Homo sapiens: one gene and its partners. The protein of the gene in region 3 interacts with the protein of the main gene of each other region in a pairwise test. Each region holds a gene or a part of one and is shown on either strand. Other genes may lie near its edges. The genes, in order: FARS2, SNX4, DGAT2L6 and TTPA.

Evidence for each region.
Region 1: the proteins of DGAT2L6 (region 3) and FARS2 interact in binary tests that used the Homo sapiens proteins (3 or more experiments, as listed by UniProt).
Region 2: the proteins of DGAT2L6 (region 3) and SNX4 interact in binary tests that used the Homo sapiens proteins (3 or more experiments, as listed by UniProt).
Region 4: the proteins of DGAT2L6 (region 3) and TTPA interact in binary tests that used the Homo sapiens proteins (3 or more experiments, as listed by UniProt).

What each region holds. Positions count from the first base shown.
Region 1 is NC_000006.12:5,768,413-5,772,157, forward strand, and holds the end of FARS2 (phenylalanine--tRNA ligase, mitochondrial), read left to right. Parts: intron 1-2,878; coding exon 2,879-3,017; 3' UTR 3,018-3,171; downstream 3,172-3,745. UniProt on the Homo sapiens protein: Is responsible for the charging of tRNA(Phe) with phenylalanine in mitochondrial translation.
Region 2 is NC_000003.12:125,517,203-125,524,851, reverse strand, and holds the start of SNX4 (sorting nexin-4), read left to right. Parts: upstream 1-4,649; 5' UTR 4,650-4,679; coding exon 4,680-4,820; intron 4,821-7,649. UniProt on the Homo sapiens protein: Involved in the regulation of endocytosis and in several stages of intracellular trafficking. Plays a role in recycling endocytosed transferrin receptor and prevent its degradation.
Region 3 is NC_000023.11:70,201,347-70,206,242, forward strand, and holds the end of DGAT2L6 (diacylglycerol O-acyltransferase 2-like protein 6), read left to right. Parts: intron 1-543; coding exon 544-718; intron 719-2,958; coding exon 2,959-3,170; intron 3,171-3,605; coding exon 3,606-3,760; 3' UTR 3,761-4,358; downstream 4,359-4,896. UniProt on the Homo sapiens protein: Diglyceride acyltransferase that uses fatty acyl-CoA as substrate. Particularly active with oleate as a substrate. Has no wax synthase activity to produce wax esters.
Region 4 is NC_000008.11:63,075,904-63,083,077, reverse strand, and holds part of TTPA (alpha-tocopherol transfer protein), read left to right. Parts: intron 1-6,490; exon of another isoform or gene 6,491-6,625; intron 6,626-7,174.

The DNA of each region.
Region 1 (3,745 bases), on a different chromosome or scaffold from region 3:
GAAAACAGATTTTTCCCCATCCATCTTCAATTGGCAATAACTTTTAGAGGTGCCATATTACCAGCTCTTCTGCTAGGAGGGACCAGAGTGAAACAGTGAAAAAACACAATGTGATAATAATTGCCACAATGATACTTTCACCTCACACCCAATTAGCACTTTATAATTTGCAGAGTCCTGTCAATTTCTAAACAGGCCCTGATTTCTCCATATCTTCTCCAATACTTGTTATTTTCCTTTTGTTTTTAAAATGAGCATCCTAATGGGCCTGAAGTGGTATCTCATGGTGGTTTTGATTTGCATTTCCCTGATGGCTGAAGTTGAACATTTTTTCATGTGCTTGTTGGCCATTTGTTTATCTTTGCAGAAATGTCTATTCAGATCTTTGGTACATTTGTTTTACTATGTTGTTGGCTATTTTATCGTTGAGTTGTAAGAGTTCTTTGTATATTCTAGATACAAATCCCTTATCAGGTATATGACTTGCAAATATCTTCTCCCATTCTGTGTGTTCCTTTTTGACTTTCTTGATTGTATGCCTTGAATTAAAAAAAATGCCTAATTTTGATGAATTCCAAGTTTATCATTTTTTTTAATTTTTTCACCTGTGCTTTTGGTGTCATCTAAGGAGGTTTTGCCTATGCGGTCATGAATATTTACTCATCTGTTTTCTTCTAAGAGTGATAATAGTTTCAGCTCTTATATTGAGATATATGATATATTTTGAGTTAGTTTGTGTGTGTGTGGTGTGAGGTAGGGATTCAGCTTCATTCTTTTGCATGTGGATATCCAGTTGTCTCAGTATCAATTGTTGAAAAGACATTTCCCCCTTGGATAGTCTTGGTGCTCTTGTCAAAAACCAAATAACTGTAAATGGAGCAATTGTAGTTTGAATGGAATGGGTCAGCACTTGGTGGCAGCAGGGGTCTTGGCTATGTAGTTTCATAAGCTCCCACTCCTGGAGAGCCTCTGTTTTCCTCTCAAAGCCAGGTTTTTCTGTCTCGCTGCGTTTTGGTGCCTGAAAGGCTTGGGTGGGCATGGTACCTGGAGTACTGTTGTTCGGAGCACAAAGTGAGGAGAAAAGACCACTCTACTTTGTGGGAGGTCCTTGGGGCAGTTTGGGCAGCAGTGCCTCCCCCAGGAGTCAGGGTCCCCACCCCAGAGGAATGTCCACAGAGCAGAGCCATTGGCCTGAGCTGGACTGAAAAAGAAAGAGCCAGGTGGGGAGAGGATTTGATTTCTCCCTTGGTCTAAAGCAGGCAGCTGACATTGGGTGAGGGAATGGGGCAGGCCTCCATGTGCTATCGGGAATCCCCAGGAGGTCCCTACAGAAAACTTCCACCCCCAGCCCAGCTTGTTTATCACAGCCCTTCAGTGGTAACTTCCTCCTGTGGCTTGATCCAAACGGGGGCTGCATATGTGGCCAAAATGCACATAACCCTGTGAGGCACAGCATAGCAGCTTATCTTCCCTGAAAGTGGAAGGACAAAAGCAGGACAAAGATGACCAAGCCAGGGTGGGAGAGAGGGGAGGAGACACTGGAAGGGGAGGTGAAGGGGCAGACTAGGGAGGCCAGGACCAAGGCAGACTCTCATGCACCAGGCATATTCTGCCCAGCCAAGGGCTCTGGCATTCAGATGAGGGAGAGGGAGAGGAAAGAGGAGAGAATCCAGTGAGACCAATCCATGAAGTGTCGGGAGGACCCTGGAAGCAAAGGCTCTGGACTCAGGTGGCATCAATGGGACTACCAGTTTCCAGTGAATATGTGGGAGTGGCCTAGGTCCAGCTCAATCAGAAGCCCATTTGTTCAAGGCCCTGGTATTACTGAAGGCCCAGCCCTGTCTCACCTGCCAGAAAGCACGTGGCCTCTCCCTGGCTAGGCTAAGGGCTGGTTGACGGCATCATAAAAGGAATCTGCCTGGGAGCCCTCAATTTGTTTCAGTTTCCTCCCCCAAGGCCAAGAAGGGATTGGGTTGCCTCTGTTGTTGTTGCTGCTGCTGCTGCTGCTGCTGCTGCTGGGGGTTGGAAAAGAGGAATTTGTGTGACCAGATCCCCTTATTGTATAGAAGAAGAGAAATGTGAGCATTCAGAGATGGTGAGATGTCAGACACCCAGCCACACAGCCAGTGAGAGACATGTTGGGGACAGGGCCAGGCCTGCCAGTTCATGGCCCAGGGGTCTTTCTCATGAGATCAACTGACCAGTGTGTCTTAGCACCTGCCATGCAAATAGAAGGCCCTACTGCTGTCATCTCCACGTATTCCAGAATTACTCAGCTGTTCTATGCAAGCCAAGTCAACACCAATGTCATAAAGGAGAGACTAAAGTAATTCTCTACACAGCACATACACGGCATATATGGCCTGTATGCTTCCTGGACAGCCAACAGGGGTGCCGAGGGAGTGAGTCCCTCAGCCTTGCCTGGAGCCTTGCTGATACTTCAGTTTGCCTCACAAACACGGTTACCTTCCATGACATGAAGGAGGCACACGCGGGTTGACCCCTGACCCTGTCTGCTTGTTAGAATCACGTCGGGAACCGGGGACAGGCTTAGAAGCCCAGGTCCCACCTCCCACCTGCTGAATCCAAATCTCCAGAGCGTGGCCTGGGAAATCAAATTTGTCAGCTTCCTTCCCAGGGGACTTTGATACATCCACCCCAGTGGAAACCAGCAGCCTCCTTTAGTCAAGCGAATGTTTCCCTGACTGTCACCTTCTCCCCCTGTATAAGATGCAGATTGTTAGCGGTAAATGGTACCTGGATTCCAACCTCAGTTCTCCACTGCAGTTGGGGAGATCTGGCCAGGGCAAGCCACACTGCTCCTTCAGGCACAGCCTTGTTCATCCCGCACTCACCTGTGTTCTCTTCCTCTCTGTAGGACGCACAAGACCAGCCACTGCTACCGCATCACGTACCGCCACATGGAACGGACTCTGTCCCAGAGAGAGGTCAGGCACATCCACCAGGCCTTGCAGGAGGCTGCAGTCCAGCTGTTGGGTGTGGAGGGCAGGTTCTGATGTCACCACTTCACTCAGGCTGCAGCCCTCTTGGGGCTCCAGGATTTGCTGAAAGAGAAAAAGATATGGTTTGTGAACTGGGGCATCAATCATCTTTTGATAAATGGATCAGTTTTAGGACTTTCAGAAAATAAAAGATCGCTCTTGAAAAGCTGTTGACATAGCATTTGTCTTTTATTTGGGGAAAGGAGGAAGGTCTTTTCCTATTCCTTTTAGAAGTGCTTTGCCCACTGGCATTGGTGCTTAGTATGGTTAATTGGTCCCTGGGTTCCATTAAGCACCAGGCATGATTTCTTGCCTGACAGGCTCTTCCACTCAGGTAATGAGTGAAGCCACACAGAGGGACATCAGAAATTCCAGATACAATACAGGAAGCTTTTTGAATCAGCTTCCATTCCTTCCTCCCTTCTCTTCTTTTTCAGTTTTGCAAAGGGCAGGCTTCAAAGAGGGCACTAATGAAATGCCAGGGCTCTCGTCCAATGTGAAGGGAGGTGCGTCTTTCAGCCAGGGCAGGATATCTATTTGCTTTTCATAAACCCATGGCTTGGAGTCAGGCCTCTGGCCCCAGGACTTGGGCTTAGCTGCCTTCTGCCCCACTGGAGAGGAAGGAAAGGGGCGAGAGCTGCCCCAGAGTCTTGGAGGCACACAGAGGGGCCAGGTCCTCAAACTCCCTTCAAGTTTTCCCAGCAGGCAGCCTCCACTTCCAGAAGGCGACCTTTAGGGAAGAA
Region 2 (7,649 bases), on a different chromosome or scaffold from region 3:
GGACAGAGTAGATGTTTCATAAATATTTACTGCATGTTTAGTTGAGTAGATGAGTGCTTTACTGCAGCCGTTACAGCTCTAGGTTGCATAGAACAGAGACCAGGGCCAGGTGCTGTGCCTCATGCCTGTAATCCCAGGACTTCGGGAAGTCCACGTGGGAGGATCCCTTGAGCCCAGGAGTTCAAGACTAGTCTTGAAAACATAGTAGAACCCCATTTCTACAAAAAAAATAGCTGCACATGGTGGCACGGGCCTATAATCCCAGCTACATGGGAGGTTGAAGTGGAAGGATAGCTTGAACCCAGGAGGTTGAGGCTGCAGTGAGCTATGTTCATGGCACTGCACTCGAGCCTGGGTGGCAGAGTGAGACCCTGTCTCTTAAGAAAAAAGAAAAAAGAACAAAGATGAACTCTAGTCATATAAAGCAAATAGAGAAATAGGACAGGAATTCACAGAATTAAGGCTGGTGATTCTGTAGAAAGTTGCAGAATCAAGGTAGCTCCAGACACTTGGCACAGAACACACAGGAAATTCGACTTGGCAAAAACCTGGCCCTAGCACTGCCACAGGCTCAACCTCCAGCATTCCCTCCGACCCAAGATTCAAACTCTTGGGAGTTTAAGGGTCTGAATTGGTGAGTTGAAATAATCTTCCCAGAGGTGGTACAAGAAGGATCTGGGCTCCTCAACTCCTATGATGAGAGGCTACAATAGAGGTACATATTAAAAATTGCTCCCCACACAAGTCCTCACACAATGAGGAATTTGCTCCAAAAGAATATGGTGGTACTGATAGGAGGGTGGGAAGAAAGATCCTGTGCTGTGACCAAGGGCAAATGTCATCCACACTGACACTGAAAGGAGAAATGGGGTGGGGTTTGGGTTTGATTGCTGCTGAGAAGAAGGGGATAGTTTCAGAGGAAGGAGACAAAAGTGACTGTCACAGTCCCTGGGAGGCTGGCCAGGCACCAGGAGGAAAATCCTGGGAAGAGGGAGAACAGAACCTGGACGATGGGGACCAGAGAATAGATATTTCTTGGTGTTCCCAGGCTAACATGGGAGCTCAAAAAATGTTAAATTAATGACAAATTGAAATCTAAAACATGCTGTTGACATGCAAGGGACTGAAGTACCTTCTGCCTGGCTAGTCACTCCTGCTCCTGAGGCTTTCCCATTCACTCCAGAGCAGGTCACCGCAGGCTCTCCCCCAGTGAGGGCTGTGAGGGGGAATTCCTTCCCTTCCAGAGTCAGAAGAAGGGGGAATATCTATTTCCATAATCTCCATGGAGTTAGCCTTGGGCTTTCCCAGACCTCAGCACACAGGTGTGACTTTGCCTTCATATGCCAAGGAAACCTGTTTTTCTTTGTGTGTGTTCACATAAGGAATCAATTCTCAATTTCCGCAAATTATTTGCATCTTCTCTAGAAGAATCTCTCTTCTTCCTCTCCCCCATGAAGAGAAGCAGCATGGCCCAAGAGCTTGGGTTCTGGGTGTCCTACAAATCTGGGTTTGAATATCTTTCCCTTATTTAATGGCTGTGTGACTTTGTCAAATATTACTGAGCCTGCTTCATTGGTGAAATGGGGAAAATAATGTCTTTTTTGTTTGTTTGTTTGTTGTTTGTTTTGAGACAGAGTCTCTCTCTGTCACCCAGCTGGAGTGCAATGGCACAGTCTCTGCTCACTGCAGCTTTGACCTCCTGGGCTCAAGGGATCCTCCCACTTTAGCCTCCCAAGTAGCTGGGACTACAGGGGCATGCCACCCCATCTGGCTACTTTTCGTATCTCTTGTAGAGACAGGGTCTGACTATGTTGCCCAGCCTGGTCTCGAACTCCTGGGCTCAAGCAATCACTTCGGCTTCCCAAAGTGCTGGGATTTTTTTTTTTTTTTAAGAGTCAGTCTCATTCTGTTCCCTAGGCTGGAGTGCAGTGGTCCTATCATGGATCACTGCAACCTCAAACTCCTGGACTCAAGCGATCTTCCCACCTCAGCCTACTGAGTAGTTGGGATACAGGCACATGTCACCATGCCCAGCTTGTATAATGCCTGTCTTGCAGGGAGGGGCACTGCATGAAAAAGTATTAATATGTGAAGTGCCAAGCACATAAAAAAACTGCAGCTATCATGATTCTGGCCATTGGGCAGGGTGTCCCAAACATGGACCCATTAAAAAAATTCAAAATGCCAGCTACCCTCCCACCTCAGGCTTTTTACATAACCACTAGTTGCTATCTCTTTATCAAAAATAATTTGTTAGCCTATAGACAGCCCCAAGAATAAGGCATATTATCTAGTGCAGGGGTCCCCAACCCCCATGCTGTGGGCTGGTACCAGTCTGTGGTCTGCTAGGAACTCTTGATTTCGAGCAATCTGCCTATCTTGGCCTTCAAAAGTGCTGCGATCACAGGCATGAGCCACCGAGCCCGGCCAAAAGAACCCTTATTTATTTATTTATTTATTTTTGAGACGGAGTCTTGCTCTGTCACCCAGGCTGGAGTGCAGTGGCATGATCTCGGCTTACTGCAACCTCGGCCTCCTGGGTTCAAGCGATTCTCCTGCCCTAGCCTCTGCAGTAGCTAGGATTACAGGTGCATGCCACTATGCCCGGCTGATTTTTGTATTTTTAGTAGAGACGGGGTTTCACCATGTTGGCCAGGCTGGTCTCAAACTCCTGACCTCAAATGATCTGCCCACCTCGGCCTCCCAAAGTGCTGGGATTACAGGCTTGCGCCACCGTGCCCGGCCTTGTTTTTCTCTTTTTTTTGAGACAAGAGTCTCACTCTGTTGCTCAATTCACTGCAACCTCCCACCTCCCAGGTTCAGGCGATTCTTCCTGCCTCAGCCTCCCAAGCAGCTGGGACCACAGGCACACAACACCATGCTCGGCTAATTTTTTGTATTTTAGTAGAGACGGGGTTCACCGTATTGTCCAGGCTGGTCTCGAACTCTTGGCCTCCAGTGATCTGCCCACCTGGGCCTCTCCCAAAGTGCTGGGATTACAGGCCTGAGACTCCCGGCCAAGAACCATTTTTTATTTTATTATTTTTCTTTTTTTCTCACGCTTAACTTGTGGCTTTTAATTTTTTAATGCTCAACTTTTCTAATTTTCCCACAATTAACATGTATTATGTGTATATAAAATAGGGGGAAATAACCATCAGATCCATTCTGCCCTGATTTTAAAATCTATTTTTTTATGAGACGGAGTTTTGCTCTGTTGCCCAGGCTGCAGTGCGGTGCCACGAGCTCGGCTCACTGAGATCAACCTCCGCCTCCCGGGTTCAAGTGATTCTCCTGTCTCAGCCTCCTGAGTAGCTGGGGTTACAGGCGCCCGCCACCACGTCCAGCAAATTTTTTTAGTAAAGACGGGGTTTCACCATGTTGGCCAGGCTGGTCTCAAACTCCTGACCTCAGGCGATCCGCCGGCCTTGGCCTCCCAGTGTTGGGATTACAGGCGTGAGCCACCGTGCCCAGCCCATAACAGATTTATGAACAACTTAGCACTTGAAGATTATAAATGAGCTGAGGTTTTAGGAATGAATGAAAATTTGCTCCCAGGACAGATAAAGCATTCCAGGAAGAGAAAATTGTGTGTTACAGCTTGAAATAACTAAGTGGGCAGAAAAATGTTTCTGTACTTGAAAAATTGAGACCCGACTTTGTATAGAAAGTACTTCAAGGTACCACAATCTGTTACCACCAGTGAGCATTTCCCATCCGGTTGCCATAGTGAAAGCTTGTCAAGGAAGCAGGTTTGGAAAATTTTAAAAAGGGATGTTTGTAGAAAATTATCAGAGGTCTCCAGGGCTTCATGAAACACTTACAACAGAACTCAAGCCCTGCTTCAACAGAACGCTTCACTTTCCTCAAAACCTTGCAAAGGCCAGGCGCAGTGGCTCACGCCTGTAATCCCAGCACTTTGGTAGGCCGAGGTGAGCGGATCACAAGGTCAGGAGTTGCAGACCAGGCTGGCCAAAATGGTGAAACCCCGTCTCTACTAAAAATACAAAATAAATAAATAAATAAATAAATAAAAATTAGCCGGGCGTGGTGGCGGGCGCCTGTAATCCCAGCTACTCCGGAGGCTGAGACAGGAGGATCGCTTGAACCTGGGAGACGGAGGTTGCGGTGACCTGAGATCGCGCCACTGCACGCCAGCCTGGGCAACAAGAGGGAAACTCCGTCTCAAAAAGAAAAAAAAAAAACTTGCAAGTATTACCTTTTGCTGAATGTGTTACTCAACCTGCTGAAAGTTAACAATTTATAGAGCTCTGATCTTTCCGGGAGAAAACAGACCCAATAATAACTGGCAAGGCAGAGGCCCAGAAGGAGCAGGTCAGACTACGCCTCCAATTTCTTTTGAGTTTCGTTGGCTTTAGGATCGCCGTGCCTACTTCAAGTGTTCACTTTCCCCTTGCCTTTCTCTTTGTCTCTCTCTTCACCAGCTGCCCCTGCTTCCTGGGTCTCCTGGCTTAAGCAGCTGACCAGGTCCTCCGCGGGCTTGCGTGTCCTCCCACCCCCGGTTCCGCCTCCAGCTGCAGCTCCGGGAGCCCTCTAGGTTGACAAGAGGGGCGAGGCGATGGCTAGCGGAGGGGCGGGCGTCGCTAGCTGAGAGACTGGTTGGCCGCGGGCGCGGCGGCGGCGCAGGCGCACTGGGTTCGCCGCGCCGAACTGCAGCCATGGAGCAGGCACCTCCGGACCCCGAGCGGCAGCTCCAGCCGGCGCCCTTGGAGCCGCTGGGCTCCCCAGACGCTGGGCTGGGGGCTGCGGTCGGCAAGGAAGCGGAGGGGGCCGGAGAAGAGAGCTCTGGGGTCGACACGGTGAGGAGAAGGGGCGGCAGAGCCCTCATGGCCTGTGTGGTGGCCTAGCGGGCCGGGCTGGGCTGGGCTGGGCTGGGCTGGGCCGGGCCGGGCCAGTGGGCTCGGCCGAGGAGGCCCAGCAGTGAGGGGGAGCGAGGTGGAAAGGCGGGGTCCGCAGGTGCAGTGAGAGGAGGCTCAGTGGAAAAACAGGGTGCTGGGTGTGGGGCGAGCGCCAGGCGCTGCGGGTGACTGAGGGAAGTGTCGAGACTGCGAAGGGGAGGGAAAGGGACCCGGGGGGGCGCCCCCGCAGGCGTGGGGGTCTGGGCCCCGGATGGGCGAGGCTGGAGGAGGGGGTTTTCAGTGGTCGCGTAGCTGGGAGATCTGGACCGTGAGAAGAACGCTGATGTTTCAGCCAGTTGCTAAGGGGTTTTGCTGGGGAGTAGCTTAAAGGGACACAGTGGGGAGTGGGCAACAGTGCTTGAGAAGGAAGGGAATGGGGGACTAGAGTGAGGTGCAGGTCAGGGCCAATAAGGGTGGTTGGCCTGGTGCTGCCATCAGGAAATTGAAGAAAATGTCAGCTTCAAGAAAAGGTACAAATGAGAAAACATTTTTTAGACTCCTCATTTGGCTGTAATTTCTTTGTTTTGGGGGAAGTGCTGTGTTTCCCATTGGAGACTTATTGATAACCCATGTACTTTTTGAAGACCCTTTAGTAATTAGTGATTTTCATTTGCTTGAGGAAAAGGGGAAAAATGTATCATCTTATATTTGTAAGTGCTTTCATTACAAAGTGTTTGCATATACAATTCAAGATTTGTAGACCTGCTTATATTGAAACCTTTAAGAAACTAACTGCAGTGCTCCACATCAGACCACCCTGCCCAAAGTCTCCTTTTGTGTGCATTGCTCACACAGCTCACTTCACCCTCGACCCCCCAGGCTCAAACAATCCTCCTGCCTCAGCCTCCTGAGTAGCTAGGACTACAGGCACACACCACCACGCACGGCTAAATTAATTAATTAATTTATTTATTTATTTATTTTGAGACATAGTCTTTGTCACCCAGGCTGGAATGCAGTGGCACGATCTCGGCTCACTGCAACCTCTGCCTCCCAGGTTCAGGCGATTCTCATCCCTCAGCTACCTGAGTAGCTGGGGTTACAGATGGGCGCCACCACTCCCAGCTAAATTTTTTTTTTTTTTTAGTTTTTAGTAAGGATGGAGTTTTGCCATGTTGGTCAGGCTGGTCTCGAACTTCTGACTTCTAGTGATCCACCCTCCTCGGCCTCCCAAGGTGCTGGGATTACAGGCGTGAGCCATCATGCCCAGCCAAATTTTTGTATTTTTTGTAGAGATGGGTTTTCACCATGTTACCCAGGCTGGTCTGCAACTCCTGGGCTCATGCCCACCTGGGCCTCACAATAGTGCTGGGATTATAGGTGTGAGCCATGGTGCCCGGCCTGAAAGACTTTTAAGTTTAGAGACCAGCTAAGCAGGGACTTCAGGATTTGAAAGTTTTGCCTGCTGTGGAACATACCTGGGTATATAAGGTAGCATGAAGACTTTTTTGGATGTGCTTTTTTTTTCTTTGAGACAGGTTCTCACTCTGTCTCCCAGGCTGGAGTGCAGTGGCACAATCATGGCTCACTGCAACCTTGACCTCCTGGCCTCAAGCGAGCCTCCTGCCTCAGCCTCCTGAGTAGCTGGGACTACAGATGCATGCCACCACACCTGGCTAAGTTTTGGGGTTTTTTTTGTAAAGATGAGGTATCTCTGTGTTGCCCAGACTTGCCTTGAACTTTTGGGTTCAAGCTGTCCTCCTGCCTCAGCCTTCTGAGTAGCTGGGGTTACAGGTACACACCACCACACCCTGCCATTAGGTATTTAATTAATATGAAATTGCAACTAGAATATAAAATCTGTTTATGTTAATTTAAAAGGCATTATATATGTCTTTTATTAATTGAAAGAACACTATGTATATGTAGTTCTAAATATTTGAAAACCCAGGGATGCTATCATGCAGTATAAGTTGTAGTTACATACTACTTCCTGACATTTTTATTCTTTTTTTTTGAGCAGTCTCTTGACCTGTCACCCAGGCTGGAGTGCAGTGGCGTGATCTCGGGTCACTGCAGACCTCTGCCTCCCAGGCTCAAGCGATTCTCATGCCTCAGCCTCCTGAGTAGCTGGGATTACAGGTGTGTGCCACCATGCCCAGCTAATTTTTGTGTTTTTAGTAGAGTTGGGGTTTCATCATGTTCGCCAGGCTGGTCTCGAACTCCTGACCTCAGGCGATCCGCCTGCCTCAGCCTCCTAAAGTGCTGGGATTACAGACATGAGCCACTGCCCTCGGCCTATGTGGTTTCTTAAAACAACTCCCTAATTTAGTAATTCATAAAGAGGCACAAGCCATTTGGGCAAATATTTCAGAATTACTAGGTGTTTAAACAAACATACATTCAGTGCATTCCTTCCCCTTCCCCTCCTCTCCCCTCAAAGAGAAAATCAAACTAAAAACCCGTCCTTTGAAGGTCTTCACATCCCTTCACTTCTCTCCATACTCTCTCTCACTCAGTCTGTCTTCAGTTGAAAATTACTGTAATGTTTTTATGGCCTCATTGTAGCTGTTACTGATAGGAATTTGGTCTCACCAGAAAAGTAAGTTAGTTTTGCGTGTGCTGTGCACAGTGGGGCTCTACTTTTCATTTAATTCCCAAAATTACTTCCAATAGATGGGTAAATGGAACCAGCCAGAGGCTCATAGAGAAGTAATTTGACCATGGTCACAAGCTAGTCAGTAGCATGGCTGGGATTTGAATCTAGGTTCACCTGGCATTGAAATCAGT
Region 3 (4,896 bases):
ACAGGGTGTCATTCACATTCCATTATTCATCTACGTTTCAGTTTGGCTTGGTCAGGCTCAGGGGTCTGCCTACTCTCCAGAAACCCCAGCCATTGGCTTCCCTTTGGCAGGTTACTCTTAGGGAGGAAGCAGGTTGGTGGTGGCTAGTCTCGATTACCCCTGGAGGAGAGAACTCTGGAGGATCTCCAGTGTTGTCAGGCTGGGCAGAGTGGAAGATGGCTGTGCTTCATGGGTAGAGAGGGATGAGGTGGGCTTAGATACTATTGATCTGAAATGCAGTAGGCTATGGATGGTAGGAGGCAGAGGAGCTCAGTATAGACCCAACTGCAGAAGCACAGACCCCCAAGGCAAACAGCTGACCCTAAGGACCAATCTTAGGCTAGGGCAGTCATAACCCGGGACACGAAGGTCAGAGACAGAAAGGTGGAAACAGCAATAGTCAGAAAACAGAAGAACTGTCTCCAAAAGGAAGAGCCTGGGAAAACCCCTTACCCCATCCTCAGGAATGAAGTTTTTCTACCACTTGACTCTTTGGTTTCACAGGTGTGTGCCCTGTGAGTAGCTCAGCCTTGAAGTACTTGCTGACCCAGAAAGGCTCAGGCAATGCCGTGGTTATTGTGGTGGGTGGAGCTGCTGAAGCTCTCTTGTGCCGACCAGGAGCCTCCACTCTCTTCCTCAAGCAGCGTAAAGGTTTTGTGAAGATGGCACTGCAAACAGGGTGGGTTCCAAGGTTCTAGTGCTCTGTTGTCAGGGTGCCATAGGCCCTCTGTAGCCCTCTCCAGAATGGTGCCCTCCCTGGGCACCTGTTAGAGGGCCCCCATCTTCACTCTAATTCCTTCTGTCTACCCCCTCACATTGTGCCTTAGGGATGTTTGGGCCTCCAGATACATTTCAGTGGGCACTTTTCTTACTTGAAGTTGGAGAAAGAACAGCAGAAGAAAACCTTTTACTTTCTGCCCATTGGCCTGGTAGGCTGGAGGTCTGGGAAAGCGGGGCTTCACTCTATATCAACCTGTTAACTGAGAGGCCCTAAGAATCTACCAACTGCAAGGGAGGCACTAGCTTTGATACCGTGAGGATCAAAAAGATAAGACATGACCCCAAAGAGCATACAATCTGGTTTGAGAAATAGACCTTATTCATTCAGCAGTTACGGAACACCCACTGTATATCAGGCATAGTACTAGGCATTTAGGATATAAAAGTAAATAAGACCTGGTCCTTGCAAACTCACAGTCCAATATGGAAGAAGACAGACCCATGCACATATAATTACCAAATACCTGCAGAATCCAACCACTTACTACCTAGGCTACCACCCCTTGGTTTACTACCACCATCTCTCCCCTTGGTTGATTACAACACTTCTAACTGCTCTTCCTGTATCTATTCCCACCTCCCCCACCCCAAGAGTCTATTCCCAGCTTCAGCCAGGATGATCCTGTTAAACATGAGTCAGATCATGTCACTTCTCAAAATAATCCAATGGCTCCCATGTCACTCAGAGTAAAAGCCAAAGTCTTTATAGGGGCTTGCAAGACGCGGAATAATCTGGTCTATAGCTGCCTCTCTGTCCTCATCACTCACTTCTCTTCCCACTCTCTCACTCCATCATAGCTATACCGGCCTCTTTGCGGTCCCTCAAGCAGGCCACCCGCTCCTGCTTTAGAGTCTTTGCTTTAGCGGTTCCCTTGGAACACTATTCCTCCAAATGACTGCTTGGCTCATTCCTTTATCTCCTTCAAGTCTTTGCTCAAATGTCTCTTCTCAATACAGTTATCTGACCATCTTGCTCTATTTTTTGCCGGTTACACTTATCTTCTTATAGCTCATCCATTTTATTTATTTGTTTACCAACTATTTTCAATGTTTATTGTCTGTCTTCCTCCCAGAAAAAGTAAACTCCACGAACACAGAATTTTTAAAAATCCATTGTATTCACTGATGCATCTCCAGGGCCTAAAACAGTGCTGGCACATAGAAAGAGCTTAATATTTGTTAAATAAATGGAACACTACAATGGAAATGTGTACAAAGTGCCACGTGAGCACCAATTTATGGAAAGATCTTGACCCAGAATAGAGGTTTCATAGGTGGGTAACATCTGAACTGTGAATTGAAATATTGGTAGGAGTTGCCAGGCAGACCAAAAGGGAGAAAGAACTCAGGCATTCAGTGAGGACCTATGGCATGTCAAGTGCTATGCCAGGGCCTAGGGATTCAAAGATGAATATGACCCAGTTCTTGCCTTTGATTGGCTTGCTGTCTACTGGGGGAGTCAGGCAAGTAAGGAGATGACTATAATACACGGTTGGGGCAGCGTTAGTGTAGAAGAGAGGTAAGCACTAGATGAGGGGTACCTAATCCGCGTTGGGGGAAATGAAGTGGTCAAACAAAGTTGCTTTAAGGGGATGAGATTGGGACTGAGTGCAAAATTGAATGAGCCACATAAAGACAGAGGGAAGAAGGAAGATACTTCCGACAGAGGGAGCAGAATGTACAAAGACACAGAGATGAGAGAGTATGAGGCACACTTAATATGGCTAAGCAGATTGCAAGGAAAGAGTGGGGAAAGGGAAAGCTAGCCAAGGAGGGAAGGCTAGAGCAAAAAGGCCGTAAGGAAGCAGCATGGTGCAAACTGAGGAGCTCTGGAAGAGTTTGAGAGGAGTGGCATGTCCAGATATGCAGTTTACGAAGAACACTCTGCATGCTGGATGCAATGAAGACAGAGCTTTTGAGATTAGTTTCTCCCTATAACAGGACAAGGCAGAGCAGCAGCTCCCTTCAGAGTTCAGTTGGGAGAGTGAGGCATGGCAGGAATGGGACATGAAGATGGAGATGTTTGGGTGCTTGGGTTCTTGTCCTATAATGGGGAGGTTGGAGAGGTTTCCCACCTTGGAGAGGATTTTTCCGGGGATCTTCCTCAGAGAGCTCACACTCCTGCCCCTCTCTTTGCAGGGCATACCTTGTCCCTTCATATTCCTTTGGTGAGAACGAAGTTTTCAATCAGGAGACCTTCCCTGAGGGCACGTGGTTAAGGTTGTTCCAAAAAACCTTCCAGGACACATTCAAAAAAATCCTGGGACTAAATTTCTGTACCTTCCATGGCCGGGGCTTCACTCGCGGATCCTGGGGCTTCCTGCCTTTCAATCGGCCCATTACCACTGTTGGTGAGCTTTCCCTTATCTCCGGATGACCTGTTTCTTCATTCACTTCCCACCCACTTTAAATCATCCATCAAGTCCAGGGGGACCCAACTCACATCTGGGATGGGCAATGGGTGTGGTTAAGAGCAGGGTGGGTAGGACAACTAAACAGATAAGAGTTGTGGCCATTCATGGATGTGACATCAGCATCTGCTACAAGAGCATCACCATTCGCACACATTCTGTCACCACTCTCCTGAGCTTGCTTGCATTCTCTTGAGCATGGGTTTGATTAGATGATCAGAGAACAGGGGCCAGGATGAGACTGGAGCAAAGGGAAAGAAAGAAAGAAGGGGAGGAAAGCCAGATACTGAGTTTCAGTACATGGCTCCCAGTGAGGGATGAGTAGTTTGAGTTGAGGGGGGAACTCTGATGTTTGTCTCTTTTCTTTTTTCATAGTTGGGGAACCCCTTCCAATTCCCAGGATTAAGAGGCCAAACCAGAAGACAGTAGACAAGTATCACGCACTCTACATCAGTGCCCTGCGCAAGCTCTTTGACCAACACAAAGTTGAATATGGCCTCCCTGAGACCCAAGAGCTGACAATTACATAACAGGAGCCACATTCCCCATTGATCAACCCCCAAAGCCATGAGGGATCCAAGTAGAGCCACAGAAAAAGAAGAATTCCAGGAGAGGGAAAGATCGTAAGGATGAGAGAGGAGACCATCCAAGCCAGAAATTATTTAATAAATCAGAGTTCTAGCAATAGAGTCCTCTCCCAAGTGGCTGAGGCAGGCTTAGGGGAAAGAACCAGAGGGGCAGGGGAGGACTGGGGAGGGCTGGCTAGCCAGAGGAGTTGGCTGTATCACCCCTGGTTATTTTAGGGCAACAACCCAGTTGGGGAGTCTTATGAATCATTCCAGCCAACTCTCTGATCACAAAGAATACTGTGCCCCTTTCTCCTAAACCTTAGTTCACCATCACTACGTAGGTTTAGACTTAGAAGCTTTATTTGGAACAGGGATAGTTTGTTTCCTCTTGGTCCTTTCCTTACAACTTGGGAACTGCCACAAGGTAAACCAGGGACCTGAACTGTAGCTGCCTGGTCCAAGCAGACAGGATTCCGTCAGTTGTGATAGAGTTCTAGATTGGCAATGCAGTTACATTGTTTCTTCTTTGAAAATAAAGTTCTAGACATATAAAACAGGATACCACTATTTCCTGATTATTCTGTGGTTCGCTATTGGGCTTCCCTCAAACCTAAGATTTTCCCTTCTGGCCAGAAAGCTGCTCTATGGAGAGCCCTTTTCCTCTTCTTTATTTACCCTTCATACTTCCCCGGACAGAAAAGGTGGGGGAATGGAACCATAGCTGCTGCAAAGTGTAAGAGACAGGAGCAGAAACATGGGAACTGGCACAGGTACCCGCTGTGTAGCCCACCTCTCCTGATCCCACATAACCATCCTATGTCAGAAGGGAGGGAGCCACAAGACCATGCACCAACTGTAAGTTTGCTTGATGTCAAGTCCCTTCTATGTTCCAGGGACCATGACATTGCTTTCATAACCATTGTCTCTCAATACTAAACATAAGCCCAGTGAGATTGAGATTGTCATCACCTCCATTTCACAGTAGCTAAAGCTCCTAGAGGGTTAGTAGCTTGCCCAAAGCCACACAACTTTGGATAGAACTAGCATTCAAACCAGAGTTCTCTCCAATGCACCACTCTATGTCCCCATTCCTCATT
Region 4 (7,174 bases), on a different chromosome or scaffold from region 3:
CACACTGTCTTCCACAGTGGTTGAACTAATTTACACTCCCACTAACAGTGTAAAAGCATTCTTATTTCTCCACATCTTCTCCAGCACCTGTCGTTTCCTGACTTTTCAATGATCACCATTCTAACTGGCGTGAGATAGTATCTCATTGTGGTTTTGATTTGCATTTCTCTGATGACCAGTGATGATGAGCATTTTTACATGTATCCGTTGGCTGCATAAATGTCTTCTTTTGAGAAGTGTCTGTTCATATCCTTCACCCACTTTTTGATGGGGTTGTTTTTCTTGTAAATTTGTTTAAGTTCCTTGCACATTCTGGATATTAGCCCTTTGTCAGATGGGTAGATTGCAAAAATTTTCTCCCATTCTGTAGGTTGCCTCTTCATTCTGATGCTAGTTTCTTTTGCCATGCAGAAGCTCTTTAGTTTAATTAGATCCCGTTTCTCAGTTTTGGCTTTTGTTGCCATTGCTTTTGGTGTTTTAGTCATGAAGTCCTTGCCCACACCTATGGCCTGAATGGTATTGCATAGGTTTTCTTCTAGGGTTTTTATGGTTTTAGGTCTAACATTTAAGTCTTTAATCCATCTTGAATTAATTTTTGTATAAGATGTAAGGAAGGGATCCAGTTTCAGCTTTCTACATATGGCTAGCCAGTTTTCCCAGCGCCATTTATTAAATAGGGAATCCTTTCCCCATTTTTTGTTTTTGTCAGATTTGTCAAAGATGAGATGGTTGTAGATGTGTGGTGTTATTTCTGAGGCCTCTGTTCTGTTCCATTGGTCTATATATCTCTTTTGGTACCAGTACCATGCTGTTTTGGTTACTGTAGCCTTGTAGCGTAGTTTGAAGTCAGGTAGCATGATGCCTCCAGCTTTGTTCTTTCTGCTTAGGATTGTCTTGGCAATGTGGGCTCTTTTTTGGTTCAATATGAACTTTAAAGTAGTTTTTTCCAGTTCTGTGAAGAAAGTCATTGGTAGCTTGATGGGGATGGCATTGAATCTATAAATTACCTTGGGCAGTATGGCCATTTTCATGATATTGATTCTTCCTACCCATGAGCATGGAATGTTCTTCCATTTGTTTGTGTCCTCTTTTATTTTGTTGAGCAGTGGTTTGTAGTTCTCCTTGAAGAGGTCCTTCACATTCCTTGTAAGTTGGATTCCTAGGTATTTTATTCTGTTTGTAGCAATTGTGAATGGGAGTTCACTCATGATTTAGTTCTCTGTTTGTCCGTTATTGGTGTATAGGAATGCTTGCGATTTTTGCACATTGATTTTGTATCCTGAGACTTTGCTGAAGTTGCTTATCAGCTTAAGGAGATTTTGGGTTGAGACGATGGGGTTTTCTAAATTTACAGTCATGTCTTCTGCAAACAGGGACAATTTGACTTCCCATTTCCTAATTGAATACCCTTTATTTCTTTCTCTTGCCTGATTGCCGTGGCCAGGATTTCCAACACTATGTTGAATGGGAATGGTGAGAGAGGGCATCCTTGTCCTGTGCCGGTTTTCAAAGGGAATGCTTCCAGTTTTGGCCCATTCAGTATGATACTGACTGTGGGTCTGTCATAAATACCTCTTATTATTTTGAGATACGTTCCATAAATATCTAGTTTTTTGACAGTCTTTAGCATGAAGGGCTGTTGAATTTTGTCAAAGGCCTTTTCTGCATCTATTGAGATAATCATGTGGTTTTTGTCATTGATTCTGTTTATCTGATGGATTACATTTATTGATTTGTGTATGTTGAACCAGGCTTGCATTCCAGGGATGAAGCCAACTTGATCTTGGTGGATAAGCTTTTTGATGTGCTGCTGGATTCGGTTTGCCAGTATTTTATTGAGGATTTTTGCATCGATGTTCATCAGGGATATTCATCTAAAATTCTCTTTTTTTGTTGTGTCTCTGCCAGGCTTTGATATCAGGATGATGCTGGCCTCATAAAATGAGTTTGTGAGGATCCCCTCTTTTTCTATTGATTGGAATAGTTTCAGAAGGAATGGTACCAGCTCCTTTTTGTACCTCTGTTAGAATTTGTCTGTTAATCGGTCTGTTTTTTTTTTTTGGTTGGTAGGCTATTAATTATTGCCTCAATTTCAGAGCCTGTTATTGGTCTATTCAGAGATTCAACTTCTTCCTGGTTTAGTCTTGGGAGGGTGTATGTGTCCAGGAATTTATCCATTTCTTCTAGATTTTCCAGTTTATTTGCATAGAGGTGTTTATAGTATTCTCTGATGGCAGTTTGTATTTTGTGGGATCGGTGGTGATATCCCCTTTATCATTTTTTTGTGTCTATTTGATTACTTGATTCTTCTCTCTTTTCTTCTTTATTATTATTATTATTTATTTTTTTTTTTTTTTTGATACGGAGTCTCGCTCTGTCACCCAGGCTGGAGTGCAGTGGCATGATTCGGCTCACTGCAAGCTCTGCCTCCTGGGTTCACGCCATTCTCCCACCTCAGCCTCCCAGTAGCTGGGACTACAGACGCCCGCCACCACGCCCAGCTAATTTTTCTGTATTTTTAGTAGAGACGGGGTTTCACCGTGTTAGCTAGGATGGTCTTGATCTCCCGACGTCGTGATCCGCCTGCCTTGGCCTCCCAAAGTGCTGGGATTACAGGCGTGAGCCACCATGCCCGGCCTTCTTTATTAGTCTTGCTAGCAGTCTATCAATTTTGTTGATCGTTTCAAAAAACCAGCTTCTAGATTCATTGATTTTTCAAAGGGTTTTTTGTATCTCTATCTCTTTCAGTTCTGCTGTGATCTTAGTTGTTTCTTATCTTCTGCTAGCTTTTGAATTTGTTTGCTCTTGCTTCTCTATTTCTTTTAATTGTGGTGTTAGGGTGTCGATTTGAGATCCTTCCTGCTTTCTCTTGTGGGCATTTAGTGCTATAAATTTCCCTCTACACACTACTTTAAATGTGTCCCAGAGATTCTGGTATGTTGTGTCTTTGTTCTCATTGGTTTCAAAGAACATCTTTATTTCTGCCTTCATTTCATTATTTACCCAGTAGTCATTCAGGAGCAGGTGGTTCAGTTTCCATGTAGTTGTGCGGTTTTGAGTGAGTTTCTTAATCCTGAGTTCTAATTTGATTGCGCTGTGGTCTGAGAGACAGTTTGTTGTGATTTCTTTTCTTTTACATTTGCTAAGGAGTGCTTTACTTCCAATTATGTGGTCAATTTTAGAATGAGTGTGATGTGGTGCTGAGAAGAATGTATATTCTGTTGATTTGGGGTGGAGAGCGCTGTAGATGTCTGTTAGGTCTGCTTGGTGCAGAGCTGAGTTCAAGTCCTGGATATCCTCGTTAACCTTCTGTCTCATTGATCTGTCTAATATTGACAGTGGGGTGTTAAAGTCTCCCATTATTATTGTGTGGGAGTCTAAGTCTCTTTGTAGGTCTCTAAGGACTTGCTTTAAGAATCTGGGTGCTCCTGTATTGGGTGTATTTAGGATAGTTAGCTCTTCTTGTTGAATTGATCCCTTTACCATTATATAATGACCTTCTTTGTCTCTTTTGATCTTTGTTGGTTTAAAGTCTGTTTTATCAGAGACTAGGATTGCAACCCCTGCTTTTTTTTTGCTTTCCATTTGCTTGGTAGATATTCCTCCATTCCTTTATTTTGAGCCTATATGTGTCTCTGCATGTGAGATGTGCTATAGACATCTGATGGGTCTTGACTCTTTATTCAATTTGCCACTCTGTATCTTTTAATTGGGACATTTAGCCCATTTACATTTAAGGTTAATATTGTTATGTGTGAATTTGATCCAGTCATTATGATGTTAGCTGGTTATTTTGCCCATTAATTGATGCAGTTGCTTCATAGCATTGATGGTCTTTACAATTTGGCATGTTTTTGCAGTGGCTGGTACCAGTTGTTCCTTTCCATGTTTAATGCTTCTTTCAGGAGCTCTTGTAAGGCAGGCCTGGTGGTGACAAAATCTCTCAGCTTGTCTGTAAAGAATTTTATTTCTCCTTCACTTATGAAGCTTAGTTTGGCTGGATATGAAATTCTGTGTTGAAAATTCTTTTCTTTAAGAATGTTGAATGTTGGCCCCCTACTCTCTTCTGGTTTGTAGGGTTTCTACTGAGAGATCTGCTGTTAGTCTGATGGGCTTCCCTTTGTGGGTAACCCGACTTTTCTCTCTGGCTGCCCTTAACATTTCTTCCTTCATTTCAACCTTGGTGAATCTGACAATTATGTGTCTTGGGGTTGCTCTTCTCGAGGAGTATCTTTGTGGTGTTCTCTGTATTTCCTGAATTTGATTGTTGGCCTGACTTGCTAGGTTGGGGAAGTTCTCCTGGATAATATCCTGAAGAGTGTTTTCCAACTGGTTCCACTCTCCCCATCACTTTCAGGTACACCTATCAAAAGTAGATTTGGTCTTTTCACATAGGCCCATATTTCTTGGAGGCTTTGTTCATTTCTTTTTACTCTTTTTTCTCTAACCTTGTCTTCTCGCTTTATTTTATTAATTTGATCTTTAATCACTGATACCCTTCTTTCCACTTGATGGAATCAGCTACTGAAGCTTGTGCGTGCATCACAAAGTTCTTGTGCCAGGCTTTTCAGTTCCATCCGGTCATTTAAGGTCTTCTCTACACTGTTTATTCTAGTTTGCCATTCGTTTAACCTTTTTTCAAGGATTTTAGCTTCCTTGTGTTGGGTTTGAACATGCTCCTTTAGCTCAGACAAGTTTGTTATTACTGACCTTGTGAAGCCTACTTCTGTCAACTCATCAAAGTCATTCTCCATCCAGCTTTGTTCTATTGCTGGTGAGGAGCTGTGATCCTTTGGAGGAGAAGAGGCGCTCTGGTTTTTAGAATTTTCAGCTTTTCTGCTCTGGTTTCTCCCCATCTTTGTGGTTTTATCCACCTTTGGTCTTTGACGTTCATGACCTACACATGGGGTTTTGGTGTGGATGTTCTTTTTGTTGATGTTGGCGCTATTCCTGTCTGTTTGTTAGTTTTCCTTCTAACAGTCAGGTCTCTCAGCTGCAGGTCTGTTGGAGTTTGCTGGAGGTCCATTCCAGACCCTGTTTGCCTGGGTGTCACCAGCGAAGGCTGCAGAACAGTGAATATTGCAGAACGGCAAATATTGCTGCCTGATCCTTCCTCTGGAAGCTTCGTCCCAGAGTGTCACCTGCCTATATGAGGTGTCTGTCGGCCCCTACTGGGAGGTGTCTCCCAGTTAGGCTATATGGGGGTCAAGGACCCACTTGAGGAGGCAGTCTGTCCATTCTCAGAGCAGAAATGCCATGCTGGGAGAACCACTGTGCTCTTCAGAACTGTCAGACAGGGACGTTTAAGTCTGCAGAAGCTGTCTGCTGCCTTTTGTTCAGCTATGCCCTGCCCACAGAGGTGGAGTCTATGGAGGCTGTAGGCCTTGCTGTGCTGCAGTGGGCTCCACCCAGTTCGAGCTTTTGGCCCACTTTGTTTACCTACTCAAGCCTCAGCAATGGCAGATGCCCCTCCCCCAGCCAGGCTGCCGCCTTGAAGTTAGATCTCAGACTGCCACGCTAGCAGTGAGCAAGGCTCCATGGGTGTTGGACCCGCCAAGCCATGCACAGGAGAGAATCTCCTTGTGTGCCAGTTGCTAAGACCTTGGGAAAAGTGCAGTATTTGGGTGGAAGTGTCCTGTTTTTCCCGGTACATCCGTCATGGCTTCCCTTGGCTAGGAAAGGGAAATCCCCCAACCCTTTGCACTTCCTGGGTGAGGCAATGCCCCGCCTTGCTTCAGCCCACCCTCCATGGGCTGCACCCACTGTCCAACCAGTCCCAGTGAGATGAACCAGGTACCTCAGTTGGAAACGCAGAAATCACCCATCTTCTGCATCGATCACACTGGGAGTTGCAGACTGGAGCTGTTCCTATTCGGCCATCTTGGAATGGATCCCATTTTTATGTTTTACTGATTTATAAAATATTTTTATGTATTTTAGGCCTTTTTATATATTTTAGGCCTTTGTCCTTGATTTTTATCTGTTACATTACTTATACTATTTTTTTCTGTGCAGAATTTTAAATTTTAATGTAATCAAATGAATTGATTTTATTAGTCTTTGATTGCCTCTGGGTTTTATAATCTCTTCTCTTGTCCAAAATTTTTTCTAGTTATTTGTGTCTTCTCTTTTTTATGTTGGGGTCTTTGATCTATTGAGATTTGTTTTTATGTTAGGAGTAAAATAGGAATCCAACTTTATTTATTTTCATTTTTTAGATGGCTATATAAGTATCCCAATATCATGAGTAATAAACTAATATGTACTTAGTAACTACTGAATATGAAAACACAATCTCAGGTCCTATGAAGAATGAAGCTTAAATGAGGCATTAAACATATATATGTATAGAGATAACTAACAATAAAACATGTTTCATTTACTAATTTCATTTTAGCTGCTTTAAAAAAAGTAATGTTTAAATAGAAAAATAAAATTGACCATCAGCCTCTGGGACATAATATATTTTTTTCTGTATTCCTTAAATAAGGAATTGTTTTCATTGTACCATGCCCTTGAGGAATTGGCTAGCAGGACTGTGTCTAAATCCACCGCATAGAAATCAAGTTTCTGTCTGTGAACTCTTTGTCTTGCTTTTCTGCCAACTGGAAAGGAAAAGGAAAGGGTAAGAGTGCAAAACTTTTTTTCATTTTCCTCTGCAATAGCACTTAATTCAACTCTAACTTCTTCATTCATAATATAGAAGCCCTATAGTTTTTGTATAAAGAAAGCTTGATAAGTGCCTCAGTCACAATGAAATTTCTCATTATTCTAGTGTTTGTATTTGAAGTTATGATGAATTAATAAGGTTTTATTATATAATCCTAATAGCTAATGTGCTTATAGAATGCAACATACTTTGGTAAGTAGGGTTTTCATGGATTATCTTTTATTATTTTCTCATTTTAGAAGAAACAGATATAAAGAGTAAGTAACTTGTCTGAAATTATGTAGCCATTAAGTGTTGAAGCAGGGATTTGAATTTGGGTTGGGCTCAGGAGAGAGCCTGCGCTGTCAAATACACTGCACTTGCCTCTTATATTTAAAACAACAAACATATAAAACAGCTAACCATTCACTTCTCTGCCTGTTCTACATAGTCTCATGAATTCCTTATATCAAGTGATAGCCTAGTTCCTTATACTTTTGTTCCATGTGATAAGCTTTTTATGCT